Homo sapiens: one gene and its partners. The protein of the gene in region 2 interacts with the protein of the main gene of each other region in a biochemical or structural test. Each region holds a gene or a part of one and is shown on either strand. Other genes may lie near its edges. The genes, in order: FGF6, FGFR1, PDP1 and KLB.

Region 1 (8,186 bases), on a different chromosome or scaffold from region 2:
TGAAAGTGGGAAGTGGGTAAATTTCCTCTATATTTGTGCATTTTCTCCTCCCCACAATTAAATTCCTTTCTGGGTAGGAAGAAAAAAGTAATAAATGGTTTGTTGATAAAGGCGACAAGGAGAAAGAAGAGTTTATGAAATTTGTGCTTTCTCCCAGGAGATTTACTTGCTAAAACGTCCCTTGCTTGCATGGAGTCCCACAGCCAACAGCCTAAATTCCCGGCTCTCCCGACCCTATGGGCTTCCGGGCATTATGCAGGCTGGGAAGAAGGGGTTCTTTGGGATGCCCCACCCTACAGAGGGGAAACCTGCTCCATCAAAACCTGGGTTGGTCCCAGGCCTCTTCCTGTCCTCGCCATCACTTTCCCAGAGAGCGGTAACAAGGATATGTCTCTTCTGTCTCATCTCACTCGCCCTCCAGCTTTCAGGTTCAGTGTAACATGGGGAGTGGGTGGTCCCCTGCCCTCCAGAGGCCATGTAGCCTGCTGACCCCCAAGCCTGCCTGTTCCTCAGAAACACCTGGCAAATTTAAAATACAAAAACAAATGGATTTCCAGGCCCACACGCCAGCTCTGCTGAATAAGAATCTCCTAGGTAGGTACCTGGAAATCCATACTTTTAATAAGTTTCCAAGGTGACAGAGATGCAAACTGTCCACAGACCCGTGTGGGAGACCCACTGATTGTAGTGCATGCCGTATGTCCACATAAACCAACCCAGACTGAGAGATGTTAGCACTAAAGATTATGGGGTGGAGGCCACCTGGTGAACCCGTTCTTGTATTTCATAGACCTCCTCTGTTGGGACAGCTCCCCTGGGACCCAGTGCCAGTCCTGGATCTATTTCTTCACATCCCAGTCCTCAGTTTATCCTCCAAGGGGCAGTAGATCAGCTCTCCACACCCTCCCCATAAATAACTTTGATATTTTTTGAGGCCTGCTCTGAGGTCTTCCTTTTTAGCTTGCTTATTTCTGTCAAAGGAACTCTCCATTTCTTCAGCCTCATCGGGATGTTTGCCCCGCCATATTTTGGAATAAGCCAAATGATGGGCCGAGGGCTGCAGGAAAGAGTAGGTCAGTGAGAGCAGAGGTTTTCGTCAATGTGCTTAGAAGCTGGTTGCATTAACCCAAGTGCCAGCATTGGCACTCCCAGAGGTGACCTATGGGGGTGGGGATGGGAATGGGTGGGACTGGTACCAGCCTAAAGTGTATAACGGGTAGGCTGCTTCTCTAGCGTACGTGATCGGAGACCAGAGGATTGAAAACCCTAGTGCAGAATCTCAGCACACTGATGAGGATGAAAATAGCCTCCCATTCCACTCCTCCTGCTGCGCACGAGGCTGGGGCATCTTGCAGGGCGCGTGTCATGGAGCAGCGCACCCAGGCAGAGAGACAGACTTGCTCTCGGGGCCTCGCCAGTGCAGGGAATCACACCTGCTCACAAGCCTGGATGCCAGAATGTGGGTTTCCCTCTGGCCCACGGGCTCCCTGAGCTGTGGTTTCCGTTTAAGCACACGGGCTCCGGCCGGCAGGTGGGAACAGAAGAAGCACGGGCCAGGGCAGAGGACAATCACCCGTGAGGCTGAAGAAGCACAAGCTGCAAGGCCCCTCCCTTTCACAGGCTCCTCTCACAGCCTTTCCTTTCCCATTTAGATAGTCACTTCTCTACTCAGGACTTCATATTATTTTCTTCAACTGTGTAAGCATCAAGCCTTGTAAACCTGGCACTTCCCCGGCCTGGTGAACTCACCGTTGCGTACAATCTTCCTTTACTGTTCATGGCAACGAAGAGGGCACTTCTCACTCCAAAGAGACTCACCACGCCTCGCTCCACAGTGGAAATTTCCAGCAGGCCTGACAAGGAAAGGGGGGCCACATTACCTAAGGCTTGTGCAAATCAGAGTGGGAACTTGAGCCGACAAGGGCATCTCAGTCCATCCCCCTTCTCCTAGAAAGCCAGACTCTCCATTGCCCCATCCATGATCCCTCTAACTCTAGGAGACCCTGGCTGCTGGACTCATCGAGTGCTGCCATTGTGCTGTTAGAAATCCAGTTCTGCAAGGGAAGGTTCTGATAGCAGAGTTAGGGGCTGCAGTGACCACTTAGCTATCTGTTTAAGATGAGCTTTGAATCTGGGCTTTCAGTGACATAATTACTTGAGGTCCTTGACTTGAGTAAAAAAATAAATTCTGATTCTTCTTCTTCTTCTTAATGTGTACTCTACATGTTTCAACAAATCTCAACCCACTTAATCTTGAAAACACAGCAGCCACACCATAGCTGATGGCTTTCTTGGATCCTGCAGCCCCCATCCTTTCTTGGATAGGAGACTAACCATACAGCAAGCTGGCAGCTTGCAGGCAGCTTGCAGGATAAGAACCTGGGGACAGAGGGAGCCGCTGAAATAAAAAGAAGGATGTGCTTCAGTTGGACATTTTGCAATTGAATTTCCCTTCCTTCTCCAAGAAAGAAGCTGAATAAAAATGAGCTTGTGTCAAATTTGATCCAAGTATACTAACTGATTCTCCCTACCCAGGCCTTGGGGGCTTCCCAGACTAATGGTTCCTAATGGTCTTACAAGGCATCAGATGGGCCAGTAATGCTGAAATAGTTAGTGCCACTGAGGATCTAACCAAGGCGATGGCAAAGAACACCAGGATGCTTGGACCGCAGTATATTGAGCTTGCACCCAGGCAGGGTCACGTGGAATCATCTAAGTGGTGAGCAGCATTTCTGCCCCCTTTATCGTGCATCCTGTCCGCTAGAGCAGGGCCCCTTCACCTTTTAGCCCTGCATGAGCCCAAACCCCCAAGCGTCCCGACTGGCTGCAGCTGGCACTCACTGTAGGGGTTCTCCTCGTGGGTCCCGCTGATCCGGCCGTCGGGGAGCACCTGGAGGTGAAAGCCGATGCCCACGTTGCAGTAGAGCCTCCGCTGCCGCTTGATCCCCACCAAATAGCCACTTTCCCAGTTCACCCCGGCAATCTCTCCAGCTAGCCCGGCGCGAGACCTGGACAGCAGGGTGCCCCAGCCCCTCGAGTCCAGCAGCGTGTTGTTGGCACGGGTGCCTGCAGGCGAGGGCACCACCATGCCCACTAGGATGCCTAGGAAGACGAGAGCCCACAGCGTGCCCTGCAGACGTCCTGCTCCCCGGGACATAGTGATGAACAGTTTCTGTCCCAGGGCCATCCACCTTGCCTCTCAGGCACGTGGTCAGAATTAATGGCCCTAAAAATACCGCCCTTCTTGTTTTTCTCCCTCCGGCATGGCGGCAGGGGCTTATTTTTGGAAGGCAGATGAAGGCTGCTGACATGAAACCAAAGCCTCCATCGGGCACTCGGGTTGAGAGCAGAGGGACCCAGGCTGAGCCGCGGCCGGTAGAGACCATGGCTCGGGGACGCTCTCTAGCTCGCCCGCTTGCTCCGTCCCTAGTTGATGATATTTGATTTGACCTATCTTTATAGTTGCTTCAGCAGCCCGGCCCTCCCCTCCACCCATCATCGCCCTGACGTCAACCCGCCCAGCTCACTTATCCAGGGCTGTAACATTAACCTGCTCTTGGGCCTGGCTGCCTCCCCAGACCCCCATCACCCTCCACACTCCCCAGGGGTTCTGGGAGCCACTGTCATTCCAACTATGAGGCAGGAATGAAGTGAGCAGGGAGCATCTCTGGGGGAGGGGGGAGCTGGCTGGGGGCCCAGGGAAAGAGAGAGGCGAGAGGCCACCCAGGACCCATATTGGGCAGAAGTTCTTTGCCTGGCAGCGCTGGCTTCCTTATTTAGAGGGCAATAGGTAGAGGCAGGGATGGGAAAAGGCTTGTGGTAGTGATGACCGTAGCCTCAAGTCACCCTTGAGATCTTTTCATGGAAACAGCTCATGGTGGAGGGGAACACTGAAAGGCCAAACCCTTTCAGCAGGAGGGCACAGACATTCTCAGGGGGTGGGGATGGGGGTTGTTCAAGGAGCTTTAAGATTGTGGAGGGAAGGAGGGCAAGGGCAAGGTTTGCCTGCTCACTGTCCTGGTCCCGACATTCACCTGGGGTGGAAGTTGTGTCTGGCCTTTGACACAGCCCCCTGGCCATTCTCCCTGGATTTATCCCTGGCATGTGACTGATATTATTCCCATTTCACAGATGAGGAAGTTGAGGCTTAGAGAGGATAAATGACCTGCCCGAGTTACCATAGCTAATAAGTAGCAAAGCCAGAACTTCTAAGGTGTGCCTGAGTCTAAAGCCTGTGCATGTCTAATGCTTGCAGTAGAAGTTGGCTGGCCCATAGAGTCTGTTTAGCTCCTTAAATGCCAATAGCACATCACAGAGTTATTTCAGTAGCATAAAATGATTTATTTCTTAAAAAAAACTTGAGTGTCTTTGATGTACATGAGAACTTCTATATTTGCAGATAACTTTTGCTGGGCTGATATTACACTCAGAAACTAGTAAAAATATTTCTGCCAGGAAGTTATTCCTACACTGATTTATCTTATTCCCATATTACTTTTAAATAGATTACATGTCTAACTGAAGTGAGAAAAAAAATGTAAAGCTACCAGAAAACTCACTGCACAAATTTCTATACAATATAAGACAGAACTATTAATACGTCTCTGAGGGTGAATAAGTTAACAAGGGTCGCTGGGGAATTGAATTAACTTGAGTTAAAAATCCTGTTTCTTGTACTTCAATCCAGGCCTTAATCTGTTGGTGAGACATTAGCACTGATTTTGCCGGGATTGGAGAGAGTATGTGTGGGGTGATGACAGTGGCATACAGATGGATTTGAGTGTCCTGAGCAGTAGAGCTGGTCCCAGCAGGCAGCTCCCTTAGCCACACTCTACACCCACATTGCAGGCTGCAGGCAGCCTGGAAAAGCTCCTGGGGTGAGTTCCATGGCCCAAGGACTCTACTGAGGCACCACCGCCTTCCCTCTGATTCTAAACCTTCTGCTGTGCCCTGGGTCCCAGCCTCTGGTCTGTGGCTTCTACCTGCCTTCTCTCTGCCCTTCTGCCTCGTTCACTGGGTTCGATGCTTTGGTTCAAATTTCTGTCAAGCCATGTGTTTAGTGTTGCCCTAGACATGCCTTCTGAAATCCTGTGAAGCCCAGATGTCTGTCTTTACCCTCAGCTGGTAAACTGAATGGGGAGGGACATAGGCACCACTTGTTCCTACTGTCACCACGGCCCCCTGACTTCCCCATTGGCTTCCTCTCCCTTCCACTGCCGTTGTCCCATACCCAATCTCATCATCACCAGCACTGCCATTTCCCATGAGGAAAGATGATGCCTTATAGGCTCAGATTGAGTCTACTATGTAGGCCTTTGTTGGAAAACTGTTTTTAAAAATCCTTCTGCAAAGTAAAAGGTTCATGAATAATCCGAAGACAAAGTTGTCAACAAAAAGAACTTCACTTTGGATTTCCAGCTGGGTTTCATATAGTTAAGCTTTCATGGATGCAAGAGCAGTGGGGACACTTTCTCAGTGATGTTGTTTGGAATCTTGTGTTAATTATGCTGGTGGTCCTCACTTAGGGAAGAGACAGTCCAGAAACATGTTGGATGGTAAGGAGAAGTCAGTCTGAAGTTAACACTTGCCTTGGATAATCGGAGAGGTGCTCACCAGCAGAGCTCAGAATCTCTGTGGAATTTCTTGGAACCCATCCACTTTGGGACTGCCTTAGGAGAGAGATTAAACTATAACAAGGTCCATGTCATATACCAATAAAAATGGTAACGCTCCTTAGATTCATCTCTTCCTGGATTCCTCTCTGTGCAGAGGTTCTGGTTGATGTCTCATAAAGCAATGGGCTTTGGAATGGGGACACCTGGATTTGAATCTCAACTCCACCATTTAGTAGCTGTGTGACCTTAGGAAAGTTCTGGACCTCTCTGAGCTTATTTTGTCATCTGCAAAATGATATCATTACTTCCTAAGGTTGTTACAGTGACTAGCAATAATACATACAACTGGCCAGTGCAGAGCGCAGTATAGCTATTTCCCAGAAATTTCCCTGAAACACATTGAAAATCTCTCACCCAATTAAAGAGGACAAACCCAAAGTGAGAAAGACCATCTCTCATCTCACGGTGTGGGAGAGACACGTGGGCTTCCAGTTCTTCATTGCCATCCGCCACAGCATATGTTGTGATGGCTGCTAACATATGCAGAAGCAGGCAGCCCAGATTCCTCAAATGTTCTGAAAACCAGTGAGAGCCTTGGTGTCGTCCCCTGTTAAATTTAAAACTTAAGTAATTCATGCTATTAAAAAGCCTGGGTCTTATTTTTATCGGGTGATGCGATGAGGCCCTGTTCTGAATGTACCTCCCCTGCCTGTCTCTATAGCAACTTTACTGTGCTCATATAGCCATATATTTTTCCTGAAGGCTAATTAGGTTGACAACTGCTAGGTCTTCTTGGCTTACCAGATTTGCACTTGACCCTTCTCTTGGGGCTTAGGGACCCCTATGGATGTGAAGTGATAGAGAAAAGAGTAACAGGTGGAAGAGGCCTCTCTCCATGGACCCCTCTTGCAAATAGTTGGCCAACAGCCTTTGGGGATTGTCAATCACTCTCGCTGGATGAGCCAAGATCCAGTGGAGGTGAGTGGGAAAATACGTTAATGTCTATCTCCTCCCACAACAGGGTCCTTGTCCCCAAGGGGGATACCACAAAATACAGATTTGTCAGATTTGGCAATGCTTAGCCACACCAACCTTCCGCATCATCTGCATGGCAGAACTCCCTCCGTCACATCAGGTGGTTGCTCTCTGTGACTGCTGTGTGTTACATAATCAGGATCAAATGCCTGATGGGTGACCAAAAGGGAAAGCACATAAAACTCAGATGAGCCTCATCCACGTAGATTGTGAAAAGCTGTGCTTACTTGTACTTTTTACATTTGGTTTTGAAAAACTAGCATTTGCCTTTTTCTATAGATAATTTGGAAAATGTGGAAAATGATAAGGTGGAAAACAAAATAGCTGTTTGTGCTTAGTGTCTTTGTCTCTTTTGTCTCAAAGTCTGTCTTTGTGTGAGCTTGGCACAGCGGCCTTGAAGCCTCCCTGTATCTCCTCCCCATCTTGCTCAGACAGGCAGCTCTGCACCTATCCCTGGTTTTTTTAGTGGTAGAGATTGCTCACAGGATTTAATCGGCATGAGATGGACATGTGTAGAGATGAGGATCGAGGAAGGATTCCTGCCCTAGGCCTGAGCAAAGAGGGACATTTGCAGCTCATAAACTTGCTACATGAGGGAGAATTCAAGAGAAACAGTTTCAACTGATCAACAGTGTCCAGGTTGGACTTCCGCAAAGACAAGGCAGCCATTATCTTGCTAGCTATTCCCTGGGGAAACCTAAACTTTGTACTTTCCTAGTAGAACTCAACTTTTCCCAGGCCTCACCCACTTACACAGTGGGAGCCATTAACAGTTATAATCCACATTTCCCTAGTTCTTGCTTCTTCCAACTCATGTGGAACTTCACCCCACTACAAACCACCCCCAAGATATTTCTGCAGTTTCAGAGCATGTCTCACATATGTTCACGAGCATGTGACTGCTTCTGCCTGGGCACATTGCCAGGCACCTGCGTGGATCTCCCTGTTCTCCAGCCTTTCCACCTCCTGCTGGGCAGCCCGGGGGTGTTCCCTTTCTCACTATAGCTCAGCACCTGAAGCCCTCAAGGAGCCAGAACTGCTTTATGTTCTGTTTCAAAGCCAGGAAGAATACCTTAGTCCCCGTCTTCATGTTATACCTATTAAGGAAATACCTGGCCAGTACTACTCATGCCCTGGCAATCTGCTGATTTGAAGTTCTTTTCAGACTCCTTGCCCTGCAAAGGACTCAGTCTTGTTATGGGTTAAGCTGATCAGGTGGGATTCCCATTTCCTTCCATGTGGATTATTTTTCTGGAGGCCCCTCAACCCCTCAGACAAATACACTTCTGCTGGGGCCGGCCTATCTGCATTGTCTATATGTGTCTGAATCCTGGCTTGAGTTCAGACTGGAGACCCTGCCCCACTCCCAGAGACCCCTACAATGGGGAGGGAAGGAGCCCCTGAACACGCAGCTTTGTGGTCTGGTTGGTCACCAAGTATTTGCAGAGTTTTCTGGGAGAAAGATTCTCCTCTCCACACTAGCAGTCATCTTCTTGCGTTAAAGTGCTTCTTGATCTATCCCTTCAATCTGAGCCC
Region 2 (6,759 bases):
GTTTCACCATGTTGGCCAGGCTGGTCTTGAACTCCCGACCTCAGGTGATCTGCCTGCCTCAGCCTCCCAAAGTGCTGGGATTACAGACATGCGCCACCATGCCTGGCCACTTTAGGCATTCTCTAAAAACCCAACTACAGTGATGCTAGATGTGTCCTGGGTCTTACACACAATTCTGCTACAATAGAGAGGTGGTGGCCACTGACACTTAGGGCCTTGCACCTGTGTCATGTCTAATTCTAAAATCATCCCAAAACGAGCCACATCAGTGCTGCCCAGTTTTTCTGTAATGCCAAATCTAGGCTAAAGATTTCCCACTCACCACCAGCACACACTAGCAGGTAGTAGTTGGACCAATGTGACTTGAGAGCGGACTGGTGCTTCACCTAATGCCAACTGAAACTTCAGCTCGCTGGCTCCACCCAGTGGTGGCGAATAAGCACAGCAACCTCATTAACAATGAGACAGATTTCTTGCCTCATTTGATGCTCAATCTTACTTACCTGAGATCAATACATTACATTAGCAGGGCCAAGGGACCGATGATCTCCAGCCTATGGCAATTAGAAGAGACGGAAAGGCAGTATTGATTAATGCTGTGGTGATCCCAGCCCTAATCTTTTAACCCTCAGGAAACCAGACAGACTCAGTGCCTTCATGGCACAACATCTTCATTAGATAAACTGGATTCCTTTCCTCAGGAGACCCAATTTGGTCCTCTAAGTAAAACGGCCATTTCATTTTCTCTCAGGTCAATTTCACTGTCTTTTATTTGACAGCTAGCGCAGTCTTTGGGGAAATTTGTGGGTGATTTGAGTAGTAACAGCAAGGACATCACTGTAATTATGATAGTGCCTTATATTTTTCTAGCACCTCTCCCAAGGACTTATGAAGACTTTTAGATTCTTCATCCCTTCACACAACATTGCTTCAAGGTAGGGCCAAGGCAGAAATTATCATCACTGTTTTACAAGGAAAGACACTCCTGTGCGGTCTCAAAGCAAATGCTTTTAAGAGCTAAAAATTCATTTCCTAGTTCTGTTCACCAAATGATGCCTTCTTTAAACATAAATACAAATTGTAATGTTAGCAGGTGCTATTTACAGAGAGAAACAAAGAGAATTTTACAATAGTCGCCAACACTGCAGCTGCCAAAAAATCCCTAGCTCAGAAATTTAAAGCAGCAATCCCATTTTCCCTACAGAAATGAAAACATATTGAACTTTCTTTTGTATTTAGCAGTAATCCAGCAAAATATAAGCTTTAATATAGCGACTGAGGAGTGGTAGTTTGAGCCATGAGGTACGGGGGAGCCAGAATCCACTTAGTGAGGACAGTGATGACCAGCAGGTGGCAGAAGTAAATTCCAAGCAGCCAAAAAACCAAAAACATTCGGAGAATTTTCCCCCCGTTCCTGAGGGACAGGATGGAGTTTGGACAGGAAGAACTGTAAGAAGCCAAGATCTGCGACAGTCCCAACAAATACAGTCTGGTCACATGGATACAGGAAGGACGATCTGGGGAGGCATACCAACAAGAAACGAAGCCAGGGACCTGAATGCAAAACTAGCCTCAGGTGACATGTTCTCCTGCACTTAGAAGCACTGGCAAAACCATGCCCACATAGAGGGGGCAGACACATGTCTGGGTTTCAGTTTCTGCAGACCTTCATCATTTGTTTTCCTTTTTGTTTTCTCTGTTGCCCAGGCTGGAGTGCAATGGCGCAATCTCGGCTCACTGCAACCTCCGCCTCCCAGCTTCAAGGGATTCTGCCTCAGCCTCCTGTGGAGCTGGGATTACAGGCGTGTGCCACCATGCCTGGATAATTTTTGCATTTTTAGTAGAGATGGGGTTTCACTAAGTTGGCCAGGCTGGTCTCAAACTCCTGACCTGAAGTGATCTGCCCACCTCGGTGTCCCAAAGTGCTGGGATTACAGGCGTGAGCAACCGCGCCCTTGCTTTCCTCTTAATCACTGTAGCTCTACCCCGTGGCTATTCCTAGGTAGGTGCCCCCTCCCCAGCCCAACCCCACCGGTTTCCTTGGAGGAAACCATCCATGGTCGATGGCTGCTGGGCCTTGACTCTCTGCCCAGCGCCTCTACTGCATGGATGGGGTTCCTGCCCTCGAAGCAGACATCTTCTTTTTCTGACTTTCCAAAAGCAGCGGAGAGGCAGGAGGTGCGTCGTGAGGTCTGGGTGCAGGACCTAGGAAGAAGAGGTTACAAGGAACCTGCGCCGGGAGCATGCGGTGCCCTCGGGACAGACCTAGCCCCAGGGCCCGTGGGTGTCCCTTCTTTCCAGTGGACATTCCCACCCTTTTCATACAGCCCATAGATAAATGAAGCAGCAGCAATTTTTATTGAGGGACCTAAACTGAAAATAGGTTTAGAACATAATTTAAAAAAATAAAACAGCAAAAGTAGCAAAAAATATATGACCTTTTTAAAAACATTTTCCTTTTTTTTCTTTTTTGTTTTTAATATATAGCAACTGATGCCTCCCAGCCACCAGGAGCATCTTACCCGATGGGTAAATCTCTGGTAACGACCCTTTTAAAAAGACATGTAAATATATACTCAGATTTATACACTTTGTGTTTTCTTCATAGCTATATACAGAGCCCCCAGTTTGGGGCTGGGCCCCAGGGCCACAACACTGCCCCCAACCTGGCCTTCGCCTCACCATCCTCTGGTACCAGGCATTTGGTCAGCAAAGCAAACTAGTATCGGAATTAATAAGCCACTGGCACCACCTATCTGGGGCAGAGGTCACCTTCAATCGAGGCACGAAGCACTGACCTCCCTACTGCTGTAGCCCTGAGGACAAGGCACCTGCCACCAGAGTGCGAGGGGCTTATGGGTGAAGGCAAAACAGACCAAACCGACAGGAGAAAGCTCAGGAAGCTCTCACTTGCATGCCTGTTCATTGGCTCCCACTCCCTGCCCTCCAGGCAGTGCCTGGTGGCAGGGAGGGGTGTTGGTCCAACATCTGGGAGGGGATGAAGTGGCTGGCAGCAAAGATCTGCCTCTTTGCACCTCTCACCAGCAGGTGGAGAGGAGGTGGAGGGAGAGGTGAGCTGAGTGGGGTGAAGGCAGGCCACACAGGAAGGCCCCTGGTAGGCAGCCGGCTCCTGCCAGCAGGAAAGGGGACAGGGACGGACAGGTGGTGGGCCCAGCAGGGGCTGTGGGTGAGGGTTACAGCTGACGGTGGAGTCTGGGGAGGGCGTGTGGGTGGCAGTCAGCGGCGTTTGAGTCCGCCATTGGCAAGCTGGGCTGGGTGTCGGGGCAGGCAGGGCTCCTCGGGCAGCGGCTCATGAGAGAAGACGGAATCCTCCCCTGAGGAGCACGTAGAGCTCCGGGTGTCGGGAAAGCTGGGGGAGTACTGGTCCAGGGGCATGGACAGGTCCAGGTACTCCTGTGATGGGCGAGAGGAAGCAGCGATGGGCCGGGCCCCTCCTCCCTGCTCAGGGAGGTGCGTGCACGCAGTGGGGACGGCCTGAGCTCTGGCTCTGGCACGGGCAGCCTTACCTGGTTGGAGGTCAAGGCCACGATGCGGTCCAGGTCTTCCACCAGCTGCTTGAAGGTGGGTCTCTGTGAGGGCACTGCATGCCAGCAGTCCCGCATCATCATGTACCTGCGGCAGGACTGTAAGGTCAGGGACGTCTCCTGGAGATGGATACTCTCTAGTCTAGCCCCCTGCCCCTCAAGCCCACTCTTGCCCCAAGGCCTGGCTCAGGGCCTCCGACATCTCCTCGGGCTTACAGCTCGTTGGTGCAGTTACTGGGCTTGTCCATGCGGTGACCCTCCTTCAGCAGCTTGAAAAGTTCCTCCACAGGCACACCGGGGTATGGGGAGCCGCCCAGAGTGAAGATCTCCCACAGGAGCACCCCGAAAGACCACCTGCAAATGGGCGGAGAGCCACAGGGTGTTAGAGCTTCTCCGCCTCCCCTCCCCCAGCACAAATCCTCTACCCAGGGCAGTGCCAGGAGACAGCATGGAGAACAGATCAGCCTTTCAACATCTGGAGCAGAGGGAATGGCCACAGACAATGTTTTGTTTTTCTCTCTGGGGCAGAAAGAGGACTCCTCAGTCCAGGGAGAAAGCAGGACTCTACAGTGCTAGAAGCTCTCTATCCCACACCTCCCTGGCAATTGCTATTACAAACTCACACATCACTCTGGTGGGTGTAGATCCGGTCAAATAATGCCTCGGGTGCCATCCACTTCACAGGCAGTCGGCCCTGAAAGCAGCACAGGGGAGGTTGGAGTGGCCCCAGGCAGGGCCATGAGGGCACAGGTGGGAAGGGACTGGGGGGTGGGTTCTCAGCCCACCCCACTCCTTGCTTCTCAGATGAAACCACCAGCACAGGGCGGCCTTGTCGGCACTCACGTTGGTTGTCTTTTTATAGTAGTCGATGTGGTGAATGTCCCGTGCGAGGCCAAAGTCTGCTATCTTCATCACATTGTCCTCTGTCACCAGGACATTCCTGGCTGCCAGGTCTCGGTGTATGCACTGAGGAAGGAGGAAGGGAGAGCGGGAGGCGGGGAGGTGAGGGAGCTGGAAGGCTCTGGGCGGCCGCCACCCATGCAACTAGCCGACTTGTCTCATAGAACTTCTGCCACACTGCTCTGCCCCCCGAACCTTTGCTTTCCCTCTTCTAACATTCTCTGCCAGCTCCAGGCTTCTCATCACAGCAAGCGCTCCTCCCTTCCTTCCCCAAAGACTGGCCCCTTATGCCTCTGCTGCGTCTGCAGCGATGCATGCTCCTAGGTCCTGCCTCCCAGCACAGCAAGTCCACATGGGGCTGGGCTCAAACCAGGCCAGCCCTTACACACCAAACACTGCACTCAACACTCACAGACAGTTTCATTTTATCTTCATAACAATTCTACAACAGGTATTGTTATACTTTATTTTCTTTTGAGACAGGGCCTTGCTCTGTCGCCCCGGCTGGGGTGCAGTGGTGTGATCATGGCTCAGTGCAGCCTCAAACTCTTGGGCTCAAGCTAGCCTCCCACCTCAGCCTCCCGAGTAGCTGGGACTATCGGCACGCACTACCACACCCAGCTAATTTTTTAATTTTTTTTTTTTTTTTAAAGACGGGGTTTCAATATATTGCCCAACCTGGTCTCACACTCCTGAGCTCAAGCAATCCTCCCGCCTTGGCCACTGCACCCAGCTGATATTATTATTATTTTGTATTTGAAGAATTTTAAGATGCTAAGTAGCTGCCTGAGGCTACGCAGAAAGTGGCAGTGCACAGATCGGACCCTGCATCAGTCTGACCCCAAGGCCACCTGGCTACACTGGTGCTCCTGACTCTGCAGTTCCCAGAGAGCCTAAGACAACACACAGGGCACACAGGGCCAGTGCTCAGTGCATCCACAACGCCACCACAAGATGATAAGTCACAGGCTGGAAGACTAGGGGGGCTCTGTTCCCACCCTGGCATTACCCAGGGGAGCCTTCAGGTTCCACACCTTCTTGGAGGCCAGATACTCCATGCCTCGGGCCACCTGGTAGGCGCAGGACACCAGGTCCTTGGAGGAGAGCTGCTCCTCTGGGTTGTGGCTGGGGTTGTAGCAGTATTCCAGCCCTGGGGGCCTCCGGGCCTGCAGGTACTCCCGCAGGTTGCCCTTGGAGGCATACTCCACGATGACATACAAGGGACCTGCAGGCACAGGAGAAGAGGCCATGGGGCCAGCAGCAGGTGAGCAGGTTTGGCTTCACCTCAAAGAAACCCCACCCCCAGCAGCACACCCCGGCCAACCTCCCATCTCCTGCCTCCTCTTAGGGGACCTGGGAAATCCATTCTACTACCCAAAAAAAATCAGAGAAATAATTACTCCCAGCATAGTCCAGAAAATTCCCGAGCAACATTGGGGTAAGAGCCCCAGTTTGTCTGTTTATTTTGAGATGGAGTCTCACTCTGTTGCCCAGGCTGGAGTGCAGTGGCGCAATTTCGGCTCACTGCAACCTCTGCCTTCTGGATTCAAGTGATTCTCCTGCCTCAGCCTCCCAAGCAGCTGGGATTACAGGCATGAACAATGCCTGGCTAATTTTTTTTTTTTTTTTTTTTTTTTTTGAGATGGAGTTTTGCTCGTTGCCCAAGCTGGAGTGCAATGGCGCGATCTCGGCTAACCGCAACCTCCGCCTCCCGTGTTCAAACGATTCTCCTGCCACAGCCTCCCGAGTAGCTGGAATTACAGGCATGCGCCACCACGCCCGGCTACTTTTTGTATTTTTAGTAGAGATGGGGTTTCACCTGTTGGCCAGGCTGGTCTCCAACTCCTGACCTCAAGTGATCCACCCGCCTCACCCTCCCAAGGTGCTGGGATTACAGGCGTGAGCCACTGTGCCTGGCCTATTTATTTATTTTATTTTTGAGACAGCGGGAGTATCTCCCAAGCTGGAGTACAATGGCGTGATCTTGGCTCACTGCAACCTCCACCTCCCGGGTTCAAGCAAGTCTTATGCGTCAGCCTCCTGAGTAGCTGGGATTATAGGCATGCGTGACCATGCCTGGCTAACTTTTGTATTTTTTAGTAGAGATGGGGTTTCACCATTTTGACCAGACTGGTCTCGAACTCCTGATCTCAAGTGATCTTCCTGCCTCGGCCTCCCAAATTGCTGGGATTACAGGCATGAGCCACTGCACCCAGCCTGAGCGCTCTTAGACCATAATTACTCAGCTGCCTCTGTTAACACACCACGTGTGTGAATCTAGGTATCTGTATTCCTGAATGAACACCAATGAGCG
Region 3 (7,412 bases), about 56 Mb from region 2:
GGATAAATTGTGATACATTCAAACACTGGAATGCTACCCAGTAATAAGGAACAGACTATGAATACAATCAACAACATAAGTGAATCTCCAAAAATTGAGCAAAAGTAAAACATAAAAAGTACATATGTGGGCCAGGTGCAGTGGCTTACGCCTGTGATCCCAGTACTTTGGGAGGCTGATGTGGGCAGATCACTTGAGGTCAGGAGTTTGAGACCAGTCTGGCTAACATGGTGAAATCCCGTCTCCACCAAAAATACAAAAGTTAGCCATGTGTGGTGGCACATGCTTGTAGTCCCATCTACTTGGGAGGCTGAGGCAGGATGATTGCTCAAACCCAGGATGCGGAGGCTGCAGTGAGCCGAGATCATGCACTCCAGCCAGGGCGACAGAGCAAGACTGTCTGAAAAAAAAAAAAAGTACATGTATGATTTATATAAATTTCTAGAAGCAAAATTATGGTGAGAGAAGTGGAATGATACTTATGAGGGGAGGGATTAATGGAAAGGGGCATAGGGAATTTTCTGAAGAAAAAGTTTTATATCTTTGTTGGGGTGTTACCAAATGTTACATCGCAAATTTTAAATCTGTGCATTTTGTTTAAATTATACCTCAATTTTGGCCAGGCATGGTGGCTCACACCTGTAATCCAAACACTTTGGGAGGCCGAGGCGGGTGGATCACAAGGTCAGGAGTTGAAGACCAGCCTGGCCAACATGGTGAAACCCCATCTCTACTAAAAATACAAAAATTAGCCAGGTGTGGTGGCCCGCACCTGTAGTCCCAGCTACTTGGGAGGCTGAGGCAGAAGAACTGCTTGAACCCAGGAGGCAGAGGCTGCAGTAAGATGAGATCGCACCACTGCACTCCAGCCTGGGTGACAGAGCGAGACTCCATCTCAAAAAAAAAAGAAAAAAAATTTTACCTCAATTTTTACAAATTTGAAGTACTATGTATCTACTGGGTCCTAAAATTAAATATAATCTACCACACATAGGAAGCATCTAATCAATCTTGTTATTAAAAACCAACACAGGACATTCAGAAAGCAGATATGAAGCTTTAATTCACCATAGGCATTTCTCCAACCATTCTGTACATTAAACTTTCATGTCTTCACACATATACATCTTTTATAAGACAGTTTTCTTAGCAATATGGTACTCTGTACCATACCAACATTCCATTTAACTAGTTAAGGGTGTATTATATAACATGAACCACTGATTAAATATAAATACAGAAGTTGAATACATAGGTTAGAAAGTTTAAATTTTAAAAAAATTTAAGAAAGGCTAAATACCATGAAAGTTTACATGTATTCTTTAATTCTAGACACCGTACAACAGTGACAACCAATTACAATAAAATCACAATTGCTTTTAGATGACAGTACTTTCAGATTTCTAATACCCAATTACTTTCATTTCCACAATGTCAACTTCATGCTGCATTTTCATTTCTATAGAGCAGACAAGCTTCCAGACTGCAGACCAAGTTTCTTGTGTAATAATACTACTATCTTGATCATGACCACAGGAAACCAATTTTATATTCCCTGTACTATAGAGATGAGACATTATTTGGTGTATATGAAACTCTTCAGTGGTGGTGTTCAAGAATATTCAAATAGTAGCTGAAAATAGGGTTTGCTAGAGCAGTCCACATATTTCATTAAAAGAAAAATGCCCAGTCAAAACATTTAGAAATAAATATATAGTACAGCCTTTCCCTCTCCCAAATACTACCCAGGAAAAAAGTTCCAAGCTGACTTAAAAAAAAAAAAACACACAAATAAAAACAAAAACACCTCAAAAAATAAACATTATATGATATTCTGAGCAGCAATCTTCCTGAGTCTATTTTCAATTGAAACAAATTCTGCAGCCAATAGTACACTGATTCAGTATCCACAGTCCAGAAGGAGTTCTTGAACATCTAGTTCATATCCCCAAAAAATGTGAAAAGACTCCTAAACACCCAAGTTATTACACAATGGGAAGCTGATATTGGCTTGTATTAAAATCCAGGTGAATATCAAACATAATCACAGCCTTAACAGTGATGCTAGAATAAGTGATGACAATATGTGCACAGCTGTATACAGATCACTATTAAACACAGGAACAAAATGCCACTTGATGCATATCAAAAAGCCAATTTGAATATATTTATTTCATTTACATTGATACAGTATTAGAAGGGACTGAATATAATTATGGAGACTGCTGCAAACATTTGATGCCACTAAGTATTCTATTAAGCATCAGGCATGCACAGTAGTTACCTTTTAAAGTTTCTCATGTATATATCTTAACACATATATCTTAAGCTACAATATGTTTAAAGCATTTAGTCATTTTAAACCCAAATATTTTAATTGACCTATGTCTAAATGGAGAAAAACAGAAACTTCCTCCTGTCTCAATACCCGATGGCAATATTAAACCTTACTCCCCAAATTGATATTTAAACTTATTTATGTCATCTTTAAAATTCCAAAAATAATGAAAAGTCTTATCATTACTAAATAAGAAGTACGATTCCCCGGCAGCAGTCTACCCACCACACACTTACGGCATGCCAAGCCTTTGGGGATTACATAAGAGTGATGTGCTGGTGGCTACAGATGACAATAATTGAAGAGATCAGTCTCTTCTTTTTATTCTGGATCTCCTTATTTTAAACTAAAGCTTTTCATTAATACAAATAAAAAAATCTTTTTTTCTTTCTTTAACTTCAATAGAAGAGTAGATAAAACTAAAAACCCTTATTGTCTCCAAGTGTGTGGCAAAATAGAAAATCTTTCAATTACATTAGGAAATCGGGTGGATAACGGAGTATAGTTATTCCACTTAAGAAGCATTCCAGTCAAATAATCACAAAAACAAATTCAGATTGCTTGGATCTTGGTCATTTATGGCTTGAAGAACTGGATTTGAAAACCACTTTAGGCTAAAATAAATGTATATGAATAATGCATAGACTGTGTATCTAGAAAATCATGCAATAAATATATGTTCTCATGTACACTGGAATCTCAGTGAAGAAAGGTGTGAACAGTACTGTTTCTTCACTTTAACCAAGAGACTACACACAGCAAGATACTTGCTTTTGGCCTATTCAAGATCTTATTTGCCAGGTCATCCTAATTTTCTCAGGTTGGTAAAAGAAGCTAATGTTTCAAGACACCTGTGATAAAGAAGTGACTTGCTTCAAGTGCAGGTGCCATGAAATCTGAGCTAGGCAGGACCAGACTCTCCTGACCCTGCCACCCTGCTGCAAAGTCAATTTGGAGTACCTGACTAGCTAGAGTATCAAAAGGGTAAATGCTTAGAATGACCAACTGGAAATGTTTATTATAGTAGTATCTTTTTAAAAAATCTGCCCTTTAAATGTATATCATTTGAGAATTGCCAGTGAAAGAGCCACTCACTATTCTTGGTTTTGATACGCCCCTACAACATGAGAATTGAACTGAACTACAATGATTGTAATGTCATCTCTGTACATTCGAGCAAGCTCTTCAGGAAGACTAAGCATTTTAGAGAGGCGCTCATGATCAACAGTCCCAAACTCGTTGTTGCCCACAGCGTGGCGAATGAGATGGGTTGCTGCGTTCTGATCCTCAAATACCGAGGACATTTTGGTTCTCCTTTCTGTTAAAAGGCCATGCATCTGTCCCAGAGTCACCTTGTAGCCACCAACAGCTATTGGCTGTTGGTGATGCATGCCAGTTAGGTACTCACCCACAATCCTAACCACATCCTGCCTATGCATAGTCTCCCACAACCCATCAGTAGCCAACACCAGAAACTTATCCTGTGGCCTTAATCGGTGGTAAGTTACCTCTGGCTCAGCAGTGAGATAAGGAGGTGTGTGATAATTAGGAGGAATAAACTTGGTATATTCATTGTCATTCAACTGGTCTGGGCCAGATTCTATCACTCTCTTTTGAAGGTCAATGCTCCATTTGAACTTTACATCTCCAAATGCCCTAAATGGCATCAGCAAGCCAAGCAGCCGATCCTGTTTCACGACACTCTTGGCCTCACTCTTTGGATGTTCCAATTTCAGCCGTTCTAGTTCTCTTTCATTTTGAGCATTGTGGTCATTAGACAGCGTGACTGCTGACCATGAGCCGTCCTCTTCCTGCACACCCAGCATGGCTCTGCTATCGCCAGTATTGGCCACATGAAGGTCAACACCATCCACATGGGCCACACAAGCAGTGGCTCCAGAAAATGCCACTCGAAGCACCAGGTAGTTGAGAAAAGAATTAGGATCACCAACTTGCGCCTCCAAGGAGATGTCATTATCAAGCCTCTTGAAGGCATTAATTAGAGCCTCCTTAACATCAATATCAGTCGACTCACCAGTGTTGAGGTCTATAAGCTCTTGCCAGTAAGTCCTCAAGCTGTTAAAGTACAATTTGGATGCCTCCTTACTAAAGTAATCATTGGGGTGCTTGTGCCACTGGAGAATGGGTAGCAGTGCCCGGCCGCTCTCCACTGCATTTTCAATCTCTAGCAAAGTCTCATGGGGTAACAAAGAGACAGCAATATAATAAAAGAGTCTTTCACTGACTGCCTGGGAACAAGCACAACCTGCATGGCCATCAAAAACCCCCAAAAGCATCCCTCTGGTCTGCAAGCAGGTTGCTGCACTTCTCCGGTCCTCAATGGGTGCATTTGCAGGCAGCTGATTGCTGTCAAATCCAAGGATAGAACTGACATTTTTGCCGTCAAATTCTGGCACTTTGAAACTGTATTCATTAGCTTTAAGGATGCTATTGACTTGTGGAGGTGTGAGGTAAAATTTCTGTGGTGTGGAAGCATATCTCCTTCCTTGGGTGTACTGCCACCAGTTCTCCTTTGGCCTGCAAAAGGTAGCATATGCTGGATGAGGTGTGTATCTCAGTCGACTCTGAGGAATGTACGATGAGGAACAACAGAGATGTTTGTGGTGGCAGTAACATGCAGTGCCATAGATCCTGCTCAGTTCACAGTTACGGATGAGAGGAAAAAACAGTTGAGTTGGTGCTGGCATGGCATCAGAGAACAGTGGCAGGCTGGAACTTCTGACTGGGATTCCTAGACAGCAAATTAGACAGATGTACACAAAGGAAAGAGTTACATTTCAGGATACTTAATCTAGCTTTGCCTTTATAACAAATATTAAGCAAGTCAATCTACATGTTAAGCCTTTGCTAGAAGGTACTACATTTTATACACACATCATGTACTATTTCTACAGGGTATATTCTGGCAGGCACAACTCCCAATCATTCGTGGAACCACGACTGAACTCCTGGCTCCTATACTCAAACTTCAATTTTCTCTTTTCTTTGTCGTCCTTTGTGCAGTACAAACTGTGCAGAATGTACAACAGATTTGGCTGGGGAAAGCTGAGGAGATGAAGGTTATATAACATTATGCAGTAGCCGTCTACCTGACCAATCATCCTTCTCCCTCCCTATTCTTAAAAAATGCCTTGAAATCTCCCATTTTACACAGGGACTTCTTCCATTTATGAAGACCCTTTACATAGACCTGTGGTCAATTTTTGGCATGATTACACATGGCTATGACCAAAAATGTTAAGAGGCAGCCAAACATATGTGTATTTATGAATTACGTGTACATCATATACATATATGACTACAGTAATATGCATTGTAACATATATAGAAAAATTTCTACATAATTAAATAAAAAAAGAAATTCCAGTATTTCTCTCCTGTACCCCAGTAGATGGTCTTGCAAAACTTGCTTCTCTAGTCCACTGTGGCAATTTGCCAGGCTAACGGGCATAGGTCTGCCACCAACTCCCAAATAATCTTGGAAAAGTCAGCTCACATCTTTGAGTCTCACTCTTCTAACCTGTAAAGGAACATCAACAGAGCAGATGCTATCTAAGGCTCTTCTAGGATTCATGCCTTTATGCTTATGGAAGTGAGGTTTTTAAATAAAATTCAGGTTTCATTTATTCACTGTTGAATTCTACCGTGCCCTTCATGATTAAAAAAAAAAAAAAAGTTTAAGTATTGCAGTAGCTCTAAAGCTTTGTTAGTAACATAAATGGTTTCAGTCCTAGAACTTAATTTACCTACTAACAATGTTCCCTGCTTAGCAGCTATAAGGAAAACCCATAGAAGTATTTTCATCTACTATGGATCCAAAGTAGAATTAACCCCTAGAAAAATGTTTTCTTGGATATGGTAATCACTCTGATTTGATCATTACACAATGTCTACCAATATATACATGCACTGAAACATCACATTGTACCCCATAAATATATAATATTATGTGTCAATTGTAAATTAAAAATAAATTTTAAAAGACCAAAAATGTTTTCTCTCACATTAAAAAAAAAAAAAAAAGGTATTTACTTGCTCCAGGGAAGCAGTATAGTCAAATAATAGTCTAAGGTTTGGATTGAAAAGGTACAGCAATATAATTACAAACTTAAAAAAAATCCTATCACTCACTATGTGCGCTGAAAATAATTTCTGGGCATTTATTTGGGAAATTTAATGAATATATCATTAATCTAGATAATTTGGGCAAGAAAAAAAATCCCTCTTCTTCCTCAATAACATATATTTTCCCTGAATTCTTGAGATACTGCTTCAAAATAGTCATTTGTACTATAAAGAAACACTTTGGAAATACTTTAAATAAACAAATGCAATAAACAAAAAGGAACACAGAAAATAAAACCATCTGAGTTAATAGCAACTATTCCTTCCCACGGCTAAACAAATATCATAGCATGTGTCAGCCATATATTATTTTCATGTACCTTTTTTGAAGAATAATTTGAGAAAAAGTAATAAATTGGGGTAGAGGGAAGCAAAGAAAACTAAACACTGAATAATCACTGATTCTTGTTTGTTTCTGTAATAAGCACTGCATAAGCCAGCCACACAGATTCTCTTCTGCAAGTAGTAGAAAGTACCATCATTTTAACTGCACTATCTAAGAAGGGATTTGTTTACGAAAATGAAGACAAGATCAGGCAATAGAAAGTAATGGCTAAAATTTTGGAAATAAGAATCCGTAACTAAAAAAGCATTCTGAAATGCACTAATGAAAAACAGAAATTCCAGAAAAACGGGAATCCATCAGGAGTAACCATTTAAATAAAAGAAATTCAAACTGAATACCTGAAAGTCATCCAGAGGTTAAGTGTACATGACTGAGCCAGAAGATGTGCTCAAATGTTGGGCCACATGACAGTGGCTTCCATACTTAAACCATATCTCTTTTTAGGTTTGCGTGCAGAAAGCATATCAACTCATTTTGTGCTTTGAATAAAGGTTTTCTATCATTAAAAATGTAAACTAATGTAATCTTAATGAATTTTTCTTCATAATTTTATGACTGCATTTGCTCTTTCTTTAAAACTTA
Region 4 (8,671 bases), on a different chromosome or scaffold from region 2:
TTCCAGGTAATGACTTTTCAACAATTTAGAATATTTTTCTTTATACAAAGGTTAAATAAACATATTCATGCATGTATTTGCATAGAAAACTTTAAAAAGAATGTATAAGAAACTATTAACAGTAGCGTCCTTGGCCTGGGATTGTCAGGTGAAGAGAGGGAGAGGGATTTAACTTTTTCACTTTAGATCCTTTGGTACAATGTGATATTTTTATTTTTTATTTATTATTTTTTTGAGACAGAGTTTCACTCTCGCCCAGGCTGGAGTGCAGTGGCGTGATCTCGGCTCACTGTAACCTCTGCCTCCCGGGTTCAAGGGATTCTCCTGCCTCAGCCTCCCGAGTAACTGGGACTATAGGCACGTGCCACGACGCCCAGTTAATTTTTGTGTTTTCAGTAGAGAGGGTTTCACTATGTTGGCGAGGCTGGTCTCAAACTCCTGATCTTGTGATCCACCTGCCTTGGCCTCCCAAAGTGCTGGGATTACAGGCATGAGGCACTGTGCCCGGCCCAATCTGATATTTTTAAATGTACATGAGCATGAATTGTTTTAAAAATTAAAAGGACTGGCTGAGCGCAGTGGCTCACACCTGTAATCCCAGCACTTTGGGAGGCTGAGGCAGGTGGATCATGAGGTCAGGAGTTGGAGACCAGCCTGGCCAACATAGTGAAACCCCTCTCTACTAAAAACACAAAAATTAACTGGGCTGGTGGCATGTGCCTGTAGTACCAGTTACTCAAGAGGCTGAGGCAGGAGAATTGCTTGAACCTGGGAGGTGGAGATTGCAGTGAGCCAAGACTGCGCCATTGCACTCCAGCCTGGGTGACAGAGTGAGACTTTGTCTCAAAAAAAAAAAAAAAGAAAATTAAAAGGACTAAATGAGAGGAATATTTTTCTAACTTTTGTATGCATAATCTTGATAACTGTTAAATACCTATACAATTTCTACCCTTTAAGGTCTTATTTTGTCAAATCACAGTATACCCACACATTAATATGTTCTATATACAACTCTAGTCAAAGATATGCAAATGACCTTGAAATCATAATGCAATCTGTTTACCTCAAGGGCAGATGTATCTGAAACCATAGTACAATGCACATGTGTAATAATCCAGAAAAGTTCAAAAAGAAAAGAAGTGATAGCAGATATTTTTGTATGTACAAATTTAGACATGGAATTATTTTATGTTGCTGTATTTTTTTTCTACTTCTGTATATTTAGCTTTTGATTATTAATAATTAAATTACTTTTTGTAGCACATTATAAAATTATATTGATAAAGTTTTTTCATTTTTAAAATGTAACAGGTGTGCAGAATAATTTATTTTTCCTAAGTAAACTATTTGACTCAAAAAGTTAAATTCGATTCTAGATATTAGCCTCAATGTGAGGCTAAATCTCTTGCAAATTCCTGAGTCTTCTTTTCAAAGCATTCTTAATGAAGACAGTTAGTGTTAATTATGTTGTCATTTAAAAAATCCATGTCCACAACAGCTGTATTTTACTCCTTAACCTTGGGAAAATTATTTAATCTCATTAAGCTTCAGTTTCCTCATCTTTTAAATGGGAAGAATAATAAAACTAGTTCAAAAGGCTGTTAAGAGGATCAACTGTAACGATGCATGTAAAATACTTAATGTAGTCTGTGGTACATAATAAGTACTCAGTAATTATTACCTATTATTTTGCTTGTATTTTCACTATTGTTTTACTAATTTTAACATTTCTCAACATTATCTCTAGCTTTTGAAATATATTGCTTGAAAATTGCTTTAGTAGAGCACATTCTTCCCAGTTCTTATGGGAAGAAATGTGTTTAGCTCCCATAACAATTAATCTTCTCTTTTTTGCTATGTAACACAAATAAAATCAAAAGTGAAGTATATTTAAATTTCTGTATTTAATATGCATGAGTTAGCTAACATTTATTTGGCTTACTTATTTACTTACTTTATTTACTTATTAGCTAAGTTAGCTATACTTAACAACAAATACATATTTGAAATGGTTGTGCCTTAAGATAATTCTGAAATGATTGCATGTTGTCAGAAAAGGGTTCCAACAATTAAATTTATGAAGCACTGTTTTCCCACAGAATGAAAGTAAGCTCATATATTCACACTGTAGTGTATAATGGTAGATTTAAAAATAGCCTCAAAGTGCAACTTTTGAAAAAACTAATTGGATTAATACATTAAAAATACCTTAGATAAATAAAACATACACTAACTTAAATGCAAAATTTGAGGATAGATCTTTTGAATTAGCTTAAAATCAGTTGCCTTGATTTCAGTGAAGAGAATTACTGAGGCAGAAGGTAAATTCTTAAATTCTTAGTGTTTTCTGAAGCTATAAGAAGAAGCTAGCTGTACAGTACCTTGATCAAGTTGTGTCCCACAGTGTAGACAGCTGCTAAATTTCCCTTCTCTCCAGGGGCATGCATACCTGTCCCATACCCATGCCAAGCCACTAGATATGGGTTGTGAATTGTAATCCAATATTTGACACGGTCCCCAAACATCTGGAAACAGTATGTGGCATAGTCATTGAAGATATCTATTATGGTATCATTTTTCCACCCCCCATATTTTTCTTGTAGTGCCAAAGGCAAATCCCAGTGGTATAAAGTAACTATAGGTTCAATGTTTCTAAGCACTAGAGCGTCCAGAAGAGTACTGTAGTACTGCAGACCTTTTGCGTTGGCAACTGTTACTATTCCATCGGGGAAAAGCCTTGGCCAGGAAATTGAAAATTGATAAAAAGAAACTCCTATAAAATCCAGGGCTGATAAGTCTTTTTCCAGAAAAATATAACTGTCACTGGAACCATTCGTGCTGCTGACATTTTTAAGGTGTGTGTGGATGAAATGATCCCATATAGAAGGTCCTTTTCCATCCTTCTTCCAACTCCCTTCCACTTGCAATGCTCCAGTCCCAATACCCCAGAAAAAGTTTTTAGGGAAAGTGTCATAGAGAAACAGCTGACTTTCATTTACCGGAGTAAAATTAGGATTTTTAGACCATATAGCTCTTCCATCTCCAGAGAATCCAGTAACAGCTCGTAGCAGAATAAGTGCTGACAGGATGACAGATCTTTGCAATCCCCCGTTGGACATTGTATTCCTATAGCGTGTGGTTATTTCATCAGTGCTGAAGAAAATCCATTCATTCCCTGGAGATCCTGCCGCACAGCCTGGCTTCATTTGCCACCAACTGCTGGACTGTCTTATCAAAGCTTCAGTAAAAGCTTGTGATTGTAAAGCTCTGTCAATGATTAGCTTGAACTGGGAGACTGAGGATGGGTCATAGAGAGCAACGTAATTTGAGGGAGGTGGCCCTATTGCAGTCACCAACGCGTCTCCTTCTCTCTCATTATGGAAAAAATTAGATGAAAATGCATCGGTGACAAGAGTTTGAATGTGTAACTAACACATATGTAAACACTGGATTAAAATCACATTATTTTCCGTGTAGCCTTTCATATTGACCCAAATCTTTTCTGAATGTTTTGAACATTATTGAATAAGGTATATAGCTTTTCTATTTTTAGAGTTTTTGTGTGGTAATTTTATAATCTCATATATCAAGAAAAATAACATATACAAGTATATAGCATTCCTACATACCAATAGTAAAGAATTAGAAAACACAATAAGAAATTACACTTCTCCACAAAATTATAACGCATCTAAGAACAATCTTAATAAATGTTACCTATTTTAGGAAAATTGCAAAAATGTATTGGTAGATTTGAGAGAAGACTTGAATGAGAAAATATAGCACTTTGTGGATGGAAAAATGAAATACTTTTCAATTTAATACATTTAACTTAACTAAAATCCTCTAATCTCTAATTTTATTTTTTATTTTATTTATTTAACTTAACTAAAATTCTCTAATCTCTAATTTTTTAATTAATTAATTAATTTTTAATAAGAGTCTTGCTTTGTAGCCTAGGCTGGAGTGCAGTGGTGTCATCACAGCTCACCGCAGCCTCAACTTCCCAGGCTTAAGCAATCCTCCCTCCTCAGCCTCCAAGTAGCTGGGACAACAGGCACATGCCACCATGCCCAGCTGATTTTTGATTTTTTGGTAGAGGTGGGGTCTAGCTATGTCCCCCAGGCTGGTCCTGAACTCCTGGGCTCAAACAGCCCTTCTGCCTCGGCCTCCTAAAGTGCTTGGGATTATAGGTGTGAGCCACCATGCCTGGCCTAATCCCAAATTTTAGTTCAAGAAAATTATTACGAAAGGCCAGGCACAGTGATTCATGGCTATAATCCCACCACTTTGGGAGGCCAAGGCAGGCAGATCACTTGGGGTCAGGAGTTTGAGACCAGCCTAGCCAACATGTTGAAACCCCGTCTCTATTAAAAATACAATTAGCTGGGCACGGTGGTGGGCACCTGTAATCCCAGCTACCTGGGAGGCTGAGGCAGGAGAATCTCTTGAACCTGGGACGTGGAGGTTGTAGTGAGCTGAGATCGCACCACCGCACTCCAGCCTGGGCAACAGAGCAAGACTCGGTCTCAAAATAAAAAAAAAAAAAAAAAGAGAAAATTATTATGAAAGTTCCCTTGAAGAATAGGCAATATTTATTTTTAAAAAGGAAAGAAAAACCTGAAAAAGAAAATAGCAAAGGCATAGACTACCTTCAGCATGATTCTGGAATAAAGATAAACATACAGAAAGAAATACATGCACATACAGAAAGAAATATTGTACCAAATCGATAGCCTCCAAATAACCTGTAAAAAATTTAATGTTTTACAGCCTGGGGAACATAATAAGGCCCCATCTCTACAAAAAAAATTAAAAACTAACCGGGTGTGGTTGTGCATGCCTGTAGTCCCAGCACTTTAGAAGGCCAAGGTGGGAGGATTGCTTTGAGCCCAAGAGGTCAAGACTGTAGTGAGCCATGATTGCACCACTGCACTCCAGCCTGGGTGACAGAATGAGACTCTGTCTCAAAAAATAATAAATAAATAAATAAATAAATGTTTTAAATATTTGAAGTATCACATATGAATGAGAAGCAGAGTGGTTAATAGTTTGGTCTCTGTGCCAGATGAGGTGGCTCACACCTATAATCCCAGCTACTTAGGAGGCTAAGTGGGGAGGACTGCTTGAGGCCAGGAGTTTTGAGACCAGCCTGGGCAATATAGTGAGACTATCCTCACCTCTAAAAAAAGATGATTGAGGCCCGGCACAGTGGTTCGCACCTGTAATCCCAGCACTTTGGGAGTCCGAGGCGGCTGGATCACCTGAGATCAGGAGTTCGAGACCAGCCTGACCAACATGGTGAAACCCCATCTCTACTAAAAATACAAAATTAGCTGGGCATGGTGGCACATGCCTGTAATCCCAGTTACTCGGGAGGCTGAGGCAGAAGAATTGCCTGATCCCGGGAGGTGGAGGTTGCAGTGAGCCGAGATCGCGCCATTGCACTCCAGCCTAGGCAACAAGAGCAAAACTCTGTCTAAAAAAAAAAAAAAAAAAAAAAAAAAAAAAAAAAAAAAAAGAGAGATTGAGCCTCTAGAGGCAGACTGCCTGAGTTTAAATATAGCTGTGTAACTTGCCCTCAGTTTCCTCTTTAAGAAAAGGCATAATAATAATATGCACTTCATGGATTATTGTGAGAATTAAACGAGTTAATACACTGAACCAAATGGTTTTCTCTGGAATATAGAAACGAATGAGCCAGTACATGTAAGGCACTTGGAACAGAGACTGACACATAGTAAGTTATGTGCTAATATTATTTTTGTGTGAAAGGGAAAGATTATTCAGGACATGATGCCAGGATTTAGCATAAAAGACAATTTGTTCTGGCTCCTGCCCACATTTTTAGCTTCACTTCTCTCAGTTGACTAAGGGGTACACAGCCTGCTAACTTGTAGCCCTGTACCTTGGTATGTGTGCTCTCTGCACAGAGTATGTTTCTCCCTTCATCTAGCTCATGTCTATCTTTTTTTTTTTTTTTTTTTGAGACGGAGTCTCACTCTGTCTGCCAGGCTGGAGTGCAGTGGCGGGATCTCGGCTCACTGCAAGCTCCGCCTCCCAGGTTCACTCCATTCTCCTGCCTCAGCCTCCTGAGTAGCTGGGACTACCGGCGCCCGCCACCACGCCTGGCTAGTTTTTTGTATTTTTAGTAGAGACGGGGTTTCACCGTGTTAGCCAGGATGGTCTCGATCTCCTAACCTCGTGATCCGACCGTCTCGGCCTCCCAAAGTGCTGGGATTACAGGCGTGAGCCACAGCGCCCGGCCGTCTTTTTTTTTTTTTTTTTTTTTTTAACTTTTAAGTTCAGGGACACGTGCAAGTTTGTTACATACGTAAACTTGTGTTATGGGTGTTTGCTGTATGGATTATTTCAGCAGGCAGGTATTAAGCCTAGTACTCATTAGTTTTTTTTTCCTGATCCTCTCCTTCTTCCGACCCTCCACCCTCTGATAGGCCCCAGTGTGTTATTTCCCTCTATGTGTCCAGGTGTTCTCATCATTTAGCTCCCACTTATAAGTGAGAACCTGCGGTATTTGGTCTTCTGTTCCTGCATTAGTAAGGCCTTTCTGACTCCCTATGACTCCCTAGCCTGATTGGATTTAGATGGATCTTCTGTTTTCCCATGGCAGCCCATGTTTTCTCTATTATGACACACAATAAATCAGCTAACCACACAATAAATGTATCTGTATCCTCTGTTTGAGTGTAAGTTTTCTCTCTCTCTCTCTGTTTCTCTCTCTCTCTCTCTTTTTTAAAAACCAAAACAGGGACCATGATTGGTTCCCTGTTGATTGTCTGTGGCCCAGCATGGTACTTGACATATAGCAGTCACTAAAGTATTTACTGAATGAATGAGAGTATCTATAGTAGGCTGGGCATGAGGGCCCACACCTGTAATCCCTGCACTTTGGGAGGCTGAGGCAGGAGGATCGCTTGAGTTCAGGTGTTCAAGACTAGCCTGGGCAACATAGTGAGAATTCATCTCTACTAAGAAAAAAAAAGTAGCTATAGTAGACTATGTATACCTCTATCACTGCATTTATCACATAATCCTGGAGTTGTTTGTCTCCTCCACCACACTGTAAGAATATCTCCTATCTAAATGTTTATAATTGCTTATCAGAGTAAATGATTAATAATTATCTATTGAATGAATGGAGTTGGTACATTACTATTTATGAAAATAAAATTTTAAATGCAATATCTTAGATCCTCACAAATATATTTAATTCAAAAATGTATAACCACAGAAATGGTTAAGATGGTACATTTCATATTACTTGATTTTACCACAATTTAAAAAATATAGCCACAGAAAATTAAAGAAAACAGAAGTAAATATTAAATTATGTAAATGTGTAGATTATATATATTATTCTATTTACATATGATGATATATAAATAATTTATAATTAAAATATAAAAAATAAAATTTAAAGGCAAATAACAAACTTGGAAAATGTCAAAGCAAATCTAGAAGGCAAATGGCCAAAGTAAGGCAAATGGCCATAAGTAATTCATGCAAATCAACAAGAAAGCCACTAAATCTCTAACAGATAAATGGCCAAACAACATGAATTTAAAAATACACAAAAGAGGAAATGCAACTAGTGAAAAATGTGGCTAATAAAAAATTAAACCATGAGTAATTAGAAACATACATAAAAAGAGGTATATAATATTTAATCTTTTTTTTTTTTTTTTTTGAGATGGAGTCTTGATCTGTCACCCAGGCTGGAGTGCAGTGGCACGATCTAGGCTCACTGCAACCTCTACCTCCCAGGTTCAAGTGATTCTCCTGCCTCAGCCTCCCGAGTAGCTGGGATTACAGGTGTCTGCCACCACTCCCGGCTAAGTTTTGTATTTTTAGTAGAGACAGGGTTTCACCATGTTGGCCAGGCTGGTCTCGAACTCCTGACCTCAGGTGATCTGCCTGCCTTGGCCTCCCAAAGTGCTGGGATTACAGGCATGAGCCACCGTGCCTGGTCAATATTTTATCTTATAAAATTAGCAAAAATAAAAATGATAAGTGATGAAAACCAGTGTTGATTAGATTGTTGATTGCAATGTAAGTTTGCACAATACTCATGAAAAGTATATATGTGTGTGTATGTATATATATATATATATATATATATTTTTTTTTTTTTTTTTTTTTTTTTTTTAAAGATAGAGTGTTGCTCTGTCGCCCAGGCTGGAATGCAGTGACGTGATCTCAGCTCACTTCAACCTCTGGCTCCTGGGTTCAACCAATTCTCCTGCCTCAGCCTCTCAAGTAGCTGGGATTATTTAAACGCATACCATCACAGTTGGCTATTTTTGTTTGTTTGTTTTTGAGACAGAGTCTCGCTCTGTCACCCAGGCTGGAATGCAGTGACGTGATCTCGGCTCACTGCAACCTCCACCTCCCAGGTTCAAGTGATTCTCCTGCCTCAGGAGAATTGTTATATTTTTAGTAGAGATGGGATTTCACTGTGTTGGCCAGGCTGGTTTTGAACACCTGACCTCAAGTGATCCACCTGCTTCAGCCCCCCAAAGTACTGGGATTACAAGCCTGAGCCACTGTGTCCGACCACATGGAAAGTAATTTTCCAATATACCATGAACCTAAAATTTTTTGATTCAAGAATTTCTGAAATATATTGTAATGAATTGTTTCTAAATATATA

Evidence for each region.
Region 1: the proteins of FGFR1 (region 2) and FGF6 interact in a biophysical measurement, tested with the Homo sapiens proteins (2 studies listed by BioGRID and IntAct, with this or other methods).
Region 3: the proteins of FGFR1 (region 2) and PDP1 form a complex in vitro, tested with the Homo sapiens proteins (one study listed by BioGRID).
Region 4: the proteins of FGFR1 (region 2) and KLB interact in a biophysical measurement, tested with the Homo sapiens proteins (one study listed by IntAct).

The regions. Positions count from the first base shown.
Region 1 is NC_000012.12:4,442,384-4,450,569, forward strand, and holds the start of FGF6 (fibroblast growth factor 6 precursor), read right to left. Parts: upstream 3,433-8,186; 5' UTR 3,188-3,432; coding exon 2,842-3,187; intron 1,854-2,841; coding exon 1,750-1,853; intron 70-1,749; coding exon of another isoform or gene 58-69; exon of another isoform or gene 1-57. UniProt on the Homo sapiens protein: Plays an important role in the regulation of cell proliferation, cell differentiation, angiogenesis and myogenesis, and is required for normal muscle regeneration.
Region 2 is NC_000008.11:38,410,391-38,417,149, forward strand, and holds the end of FGFR1 (fibroblast growth factor receptor 1 isoform 1 precursor), read right to left. Parts: intron 5,671-6,759; coding exon 5,480-5,670; intron 4,512-5,479; coding exon 4,389-4,511; intron 4,240-4,388; coding exon 4,169-4,239; intron 3,900-4,168; coding exon 3,762-3,899; intron 3,634-3,761; coding exon 3,528-3,633; intron 3,415-3,527; coding exon 3,238-3,414; 3' UTR 2,206-3,237; coding exon of another isoform or gene 1,999-2,205; 3' UTR 753-1,998; downstream 1-752. UniProt on the Homo sapiens protein: Tyrosine-protein kinase that acts as a cell-surface receptor for fibroblast growth factors and plays an essential role in the regulation of embryonic development, cell proliferation, differentiation and migration.
Region 3 is NC_000008.11:93,919,694-93,927,105, reverse strand, and holds the end of PDP1 (pyruvate dehyrogenase phosphatase catalytic subunit 1), read right to left. Parts: intron 5,880-7,412; exon of another isoform or gene 5,743-5,879; intron 5,091-5,742; coding exon of another isoform or gene 5,047-5,090; coding exon 3,433-5,046; 3' UTR 1,038-3,432; downstream 1-1,037. UniProt on the Homo sapiens protein: Mitochondrial enzyme that catalyzes the dephosphorylation and concomitant reactivation of the alpha subunit of the E1 component of the pyruvate dehydrogenase complex (PDC), thereby stimulating the conversion of pyruvate into acetyl-CoA.
Region 4 is NC_000004.12:39,401,485-39,410,155, reverse strand, and holds the start of KLB (beta-klotho), read right to left. Parts: upstream 3,227-8,671; 5' UTR 3,207-3,226; coding exon 2,382-3,206; intron 1-2,381.